Homo sapiens: one gene and its partner. The protein of the gene in region 1 purifies or fractionates together with the protein of each later gene. This does not show direct contact. Each region holds a gene or a part of one and is shown on either strand. Other genes may lie near its edges.

Region 1 (3,654 bases):
AGGGCTGCATCTGCAAAGGGGCGTTGGAGAAGTGCAACTGCTATGCCTGACGTGGGGACAGCTCTGCTCCCAGATGTAAATAGAGTAACCTGCACAAACCTGGATTTTTTAAAAAATACAACACTGAGCCATTTGCTTCATTTCTTTTTATATTAAATATGTTAATGACAATAAAACAATTTTTACTTGAAGAAAAAAAATGAAAAAGGCTGAGTGCAGTGGCTCACGCCTGTAATCCCAGCACTTTGGGAGGCCGAGGAGGGCGGATCATAAGGTCAAGAGATCGAGACCATCCTGGCCAACATGGTGAAACCCTATCTCTACAAAAATACAAAAATTAGCTGCGCATGGTGATGCATGCCTATAGTCCCAGCTACTAAGGAGGCTGAGGCAGGAGAATCGCTTGAACCCGGGAGGCGGAGGTTGCAGTGAGCCGAGTCGCGCCACTGCACTCCAGCCTGGCGACAGAGCGAGACTCCATCTCAAAAAAAAAAAAAAAAGAATGAAAAGGTAGCATGGTGGCTCATGCCTGTAATTCCAGCACTTTGGGAGGCTGAGGCAGGCTGATTGATTGAGCCCGGAAGTTTGCGACCAGCCTGGGCAATGGGGCGAAACCCCATCTCTATGCAAATTACAAAAATTAGCCAAGTGTGGTGGTGCGCACCTGTAGTCCCAGCTACTCTAGAGGCTGAGGCAAGAGGATTGCTTGAGCCTGGTATGCGGAGGTTGCAGTGAGCCACTGCATTCCACCCTGGGTGACAGTGAGACCCCATCTCAAAAAAAAAAAAGAAGGAATTAAAAAATAAACTTTAGTTTTTGCCATAGCTCTTTATTTCACTAATGTCCTCTTCCTTCGTATAAACAAATACTAATCTCTCTAAATATAGCAAACTATCAAAAGGAAATAGTTTTGTACCCTGTTATTTATGAAACTTATTATGACAAACTACTCCTAAAGCAGCTTCAGCTATGATTGAATAAATGCTGGAAATCCAGGATAAATAAGATACTCCACCTCCACTTTTTAAAGTAAATAAATGATTTGTGTTTTTGGAATCTCAAGAAATTTATAGCCAGGCATGGTGGCTCACGCCTGTAATCCCAGCACTTTGGGAGGCCGAGGCGGGTGGATCACCTGAGGTCAGGAGTTTGAGACCAGCCTGGCCAACATGGTGAAACCCCATCTCTACTAAAAATACAAAAAAAATTAGCCAGGCGTGGTGGCTTGCACCTGTAATCCCAGCTACTAGGGAGTCTGTGGCAGGAGAATTGCTTGAACCTGGGAGGTGGAGGTTGTAGTAAGCCGAGATTACACCACTGCACTCCACAATCCAGCCTGGGTGACAGAGCAAGACTGTCTCAAAAAAAAAAAGTTTACTTTCTCACATGGGATATATTTTACAGTTGGTCAAATGTGCTTGTGTGTGTATATGTGTGTATGTGTATTCTTTTCTCTGTATCATATGTGATAGTGGGGTAGTGCCAAACATTGTTAACTCTGATGAATAATGTCTCTTTTGGTTAGATCATTCTTACCTTACTGGTATCTCTTACTGTTTCCTTACCTAGTTATGCTGTTATTGCCTATGGCTGTGCCAGCTGCCCGAAGCTAACTTGTGAGAGGGAAGGTTGCCAGACTGAGTTCTGCTACCACTGCAAGCAGATATGGCATCCAAATCAGACATGCGATATGGCCCGTCAACAGAGGGCCCAGACTTTACGAGTTCGGACCAAACACACTTCAGGTCTCAGTTATGGGCAAGAATCTGGACCAGGTATAAGTTGGCATTATCTCATTGTCTCTTTATTTGGTATTTCATGATGTGAGCCCATAGCTGAAAGAAATTATCTTATTGTATAACCCAAGTACTCCAAAGGATCAGAGAGCAGAAAATATCATTTGATAATACTTTCAATATTATAATAAAGATAGCACTTCCCTCTCTGACCATTATAGGTTATCCAACTATATAAAATTGAAATGCAACAAAATTGAATTATGTAGTTCCTACTTTCTTAGTAATATGTCTCAGATTGGAGAGCAATTAGTTCATTTTGTTTTGCTAGGGGCTTTTTCAAAACTTTCATTGTGAACAGAAAGACATTTAATTAGTATTAAACCTGTGCTGTTTGCCTTCAAGCTGACTTAAGTGCCTCACTGCCTTTGGAAGTAGAGTACAGATTGAAGAAAAGGAAACAGTATTAGTATAGATTAATGATTAACCTTAAAAGGAGGAATGTCACACATTCAGCTCCAACCTTGGCGAGTCAGAGGAAACCTATTTTAAAATGTCAGTGGATTTATTGCTTTGTACTTTTATTTTGCTGATGTCATTTGGGAGAGGCTAGTAGGAAAGATTTTGCCATTCACTTTTTCCTGGCACAGCATAATTTCCTAAATTGTCATTTTATTAGGATAGTTCATAACTTGCTCTGAAAATTACCAAGTATATGGTAGATAGCATACCCAGTTGTTTTTAGGTTTTGAATTTGAAAGTATCATGGGAAGGGATTGTGGGCTATGTTAACAGCAAATCACAATGATACATGTTGAACCTGAAAAATAAATTTCCCAAACTAAAGTTTTTAAAAATGTAAAGCTAATTCCAGGCTGCAGGCTATTCTTTCTGTAGGATTCTTCTTTTAAATCTACCAGCCTATCGACTGGTAGAAATTTCATTTTTCTTGGAAACATCTTTCTCCCTAAGGAAATCTCCTTGCTAGAATGTGGTTCAAGTGCTGTGTAAGATGCCAGTTGTTGGGATAGGCAGCTCAATAAGAGACAGGATTCATTTTATGAAAATTCCTGAGGTCTAGACATAGCCAACCTTCCAGTAAAGTGGGTTGTACAATTTGGAGTGTTCAGTGAAGAGTTCTTGACTGCTGCCTCATTTCTTATATATACTCCTAGGAACAATTAAATCAAACTGGATTTAACTAGGGGTATTTTTTCTACCCATTCTTCCCCCACTCATAGCAGATGACATCAAGCCATGCCCACGATGCAGTGCATACATTATCAAGATGAATGATGGAAGCTGTAATCACATGACCTGTGCAGTGTGTGGCTGTGAATTCTGTTGGCTTTGTATGAAAGAGATCTCAGACTTGCATTACCTCAGGTAAGATGGGAAATGCATCCATTCCTTTCGTAGTCTCATTCTCTTACTGATTTAGGGAAAAGGATGTCAAAAAGACACATCCGTTCTCTCATTACAGGTTTAAGGAAGCTGTGAAAACTTCTTCTGACATGCTCCTCTAATCATGTTTTCACCAGCTACTATTCTGTTTCTACCTTTCTTTGCTTGCCATATTACAGGTAGTCTGGACTTGCTTTTTCCCTTTTGCTGTCTTGCCTCCATACTTGTTCATGTTCTTTCCTTTGCCTAGAATGCTTTCTGCCTACCTTCCAGTATCCTCCTTTTATCTCAACTTGTTCAGTTCTTATCTTTTAAGAGCCACTTAAATGCCTTTCATCCATGTTGCCTCTCCTTTTTCCGCCTCATTCTTTGACTTTCTTTTATCTTTTGTCATAAATATCGTCAGTACTTTACACTTCACGTACCTATCTTATCTTACTAAACTGTAAGTATCTTGAGGCTAGAGTTGTGACCTTTTTACAGTTTTTTGCATTTAGTGAGTTCCCAAGGAATT
Region 2 (3,397 bases), on another chromosome or scaffold:
GTCTAAGGTGTAATATAGATTTTTGAGGTGACAAAGAACCCAAATCAAGAGTACATTCCTTGTCTTTGGACAACTGTATTGAACAGATAAATGTTTGGGGTATCCCCAACTCAAAAAAGTATTCCTGGCCTTGTGTAGTCAAAGTATTATTTTTGTGGAGATGCCAGAAGCTCCAAGTTGTGAAAAGCGTCTGAACAAATGGGAATTCAGGATGCCCTCCAACTGGAGCAAGAGATAGCAACTGTATCTTCCTTACTGGAAAAAAGAATTCCTTACAATTAAAACTTCTTTAGAAAAATATAAATGAAATATAAATTTTCTACATTTAATCTTGAATATTCCAAATTCATAAATACCGAACTTAAAATGTTAGTATATCTAAAATGTACGTTTTTAGTGCACATTCATAAGGTAAATTACTTTTAAAGCTGTTAAAATATGTAGCCAGCAACATGTCAGGAATACAACACAATCACAATAAACACAATAAAGCTTCAGACTTTCAGAAAACTTGTTTAATAACTTTTACATTTAGGAACAAATACTATGCCACACATACACCATCTTAACATCTTAAGAACAATATTCTTCCATCAGGTAATTGTCTAGTGGGGGAAGAGACACACGTAACTTATAGCCCAAGGTGGCAGTTGATGTCAGAAGATCTAGCAAGTGCATTTTGGAGCAAGTCTTGAAGGAGTGTAGGAGTTCGCCAGGTAAGAGATAAGGCAGACCATGCAAATGTGGGACAAATGTGGGAAAGCCCCATTGTCAAGTAGTATGACATGTTTGAGGGCAAGTGAGGAATTAGATGAGGGCAAATTCTTACTTTTTTTCCTTCAAGCACCAGGTTAACAGGCAACCTGGGTGGACTGACTGTACCATACTCTTTGCTCTCTTGCTAAAGAAAGTTTATTAGAACTTGAGTATGAATCGTATTGAACAGAGAGCTGCTCTCATTCATAAGGAAGGAACAATCATTCCCATAGTTGGGTACTTCTTTATTAGTAATAATACCTGCCACATTTTTCATAATGATCAAGACACAAAACCTTGCAATTATTCTGAAAGGTAGGTAATATTCAATTACAGTGGTAGGAGTGGATGGCTTAAGTGAATGGGGATTTGGTTTCCTTATAAATATTAATAGCCCTCCATCACAAGCAAACTGTATATTCTGAGAAAAGTCATAGGTTTGCTAAGCAAATATGCAGTTTTAAGTCACATTGTTCCCTTCTAATCAGGTTGCTCACCCCAAGCCTTCCTAGATGGACATTCGGGAGCTGCTCTAGTTTACAGAGAGGTGAAAGGCAGAGAGGTGAGGTGAGTTGCACAAAAGTGGTAGGCTCAGAGGTGGTTTAACTCCTGAGCCTATGGTCCAAACCACTCTTTTCTACATGAAGGGATGTGATGGTTTATTTAATGTGTTGACTGGGCCACAGGGTGCCCAGATATGTGGTCAAACATTATTCTGGGCATATCTATGAGGGTGTTTTTGGATGAGATTAACATTTAAGTCAGTAGACTGAGTAAGGCAGATTGCCCTCTCTAATGTTGGTGGCTCTCATGAATTGAAGGCCTGAATAGAACAAAAAAGGCTCAAGTAAGGATAATTTCTCTTGCCTGATTGAACTGGGACATCAGTCTTTTCCTGCCTTTGCACTAAAACTGAAACATTCAGTCTTCCTGGGTCTTTAGCCAGGTAGCTTGTGGACTGGAACTTTTATCATTGGTTTTCCTGGTTCTCAACCCTTTGGACTCGGACTTGAACTACACCATTGGCATTCCTGGGTCTCCAGCCTGCTGACTGAAGATCATGAGACTTCTCAGCCTAAGTGCATGAACTAATTCCTTATAAATCTTTCTCTCCCTCATATATATATATATATATGTACATATATGATATATATGTATATACATGATATGTGTATATATGAGGGAGAGAGCTATACATATATGTGTATACACATATGCATCCTATTGGTCTTGTTTCTCTGGAGAATCCTGATTAATACAAGGAATTAGAAGAGAACTTTAAGACAGAAACAGGATCTCATTTTTTTTTTTTTTAAATGAAACCATGAAGATCATTCTGGTAGCAGGATAATGGACTGAAGTAGGAAGGGACTGCCAGCCAGATGTAATCCTATTGAGTGCACCCTGAATACACACTTCTATTTTTAAAAATGGGATGCTACATTATAGGCTGCCAAAGACATGTAGTTATTTAGTACTGGTTAAATGAAAATACATGGCCAGGTGCTGTGGTTCATGCCTGTAATCCCAGCACTTTGGGAGGCCGAGGTGGATGGATCGCCTGAGTTCAAGACTTCAAAACCAGCCTGGGTAACATGGTGAAACCTGGTCTCTACAAAAATTAGCCAGGTGTGGTGTGGTGGCACATGCCTGTAGACCCAGCTACTTCGGAGGCTGAGGTGGGAGGACCACTTGAGCCCAGAGGCTGGAGGCTGCAGTGAGATGAGATTGTGCCACTGCACTCCAGCCTGGGTGACAGAGAAAGACCTTGTCTCAAAACAAAACAAAACAAAAACCAGGCATACCTTGTTTTATTCTGCTTCACTTTATTATCATGCTTTGAAGATAATTGTTTTTGTTTTTTTACAAACAAGGCTTGTGGCAAGCCTACATTGAGCACATCTATAGGTGTTATTTTCCTAACAGAATGTGCTTACTGTGTGTGTGTCATATCTTGGTACTTCTCACATTTCAAATGTCTTCATTATTATTGTATCTGTTACGGTGATCTGTGATCAGTAATCTTTGATGTTACTGTTTTGTTTGAGGGCACAGACGTGTGTGTTCCAACTGCTCCACTGGCCATTCCCCATCTCTCTCCCTCTCCATGTGCCTCCCTATTCCCTGAGACATAACACTATTAAAACCAGGCCAGTTAATAACCATCCAATGGCCTCTAAATGTTCAGGTGAAGAGCTGTACATCTCTCTCTCTCTCTCAATCAAATGCTATAAATGATTGGAGCTTAGTGAGGAAAGCATGTTGAAAGCCAAGGCAAGCTGAAAGCTAGGCCTCTTGAGCCAAACAGCCAAGTTGTATATCCAAAGGAAGAGTTCCTGAAATTAAAAGTGCTACTCAAGTGAACACATGAATCATAAGAAAAGTGGTATAGAGAAAGCCTGAGTTTTTTTTTTTTTAATAGATCAAATCAGCCACAACACTATCTTAAGCCAAAGCCTAACGCAGAGCAAGGCCCTCTCTCTTCAATTCTATGGAGGCTAAGGTAAGGAAGCTGCAGAAGAAAAGTCTGAAGCTAGCAGTGGTTGATTCATGGAGTTTAAGGAAACAAGCTGTCTCCACAACAGACAAGCATAAGGTGAAGCAGCAACTGCTAAAGTAGAAACTACAGCAAGTTATCCAG

What was found. The genes of interacting proteins can lie anywhere in the genome.
Region 2: the proteins of RNF19B (region 1) and USP15 purify together in Homo sapiens (affinity purification with mass spectrometry; 2 studies listed by BioGRID and IntAct, with this or other methods). This does not show direct contact.

Annotation. Positions count from the first base shown.
Region 1 is NC_000001.11:32,947,690-32,951,343, reverse strand, and holds part of RNF19B (E3 ubiquitin-protein ligase RNF19B), read left to right. Parts: coding exon of another isoform or gene 1-50; exon of another isoform or gene 51-136; intron 137-1,569; coding exon 1,570-1,775; intron 1,776-2,977; coding exon of another isoform or gene 2,978-2,980; coding exon 2,981-3,122; intron 3,123-3,654. Other genes in the region: metallothionein-1E-like, read left to right, coding at 1-50.
Region 2 is NC_000012.12:62,413,493-62,416,889, reverse strand, and holds the end of USP15 (ubiquitin carboxyl-terminal hydrolase 15), read right to left. Parts: 3' UTR 501-3,397; downstream 1-500. UniProt on the Homo sapiens protein: Hydrolase that removes conjugated ubiquitin from target proteins and regulates various pathways such as the TGF-beta receptor signaling, NF-kappa-B and RNF41/NRDP1-PRKN pathways.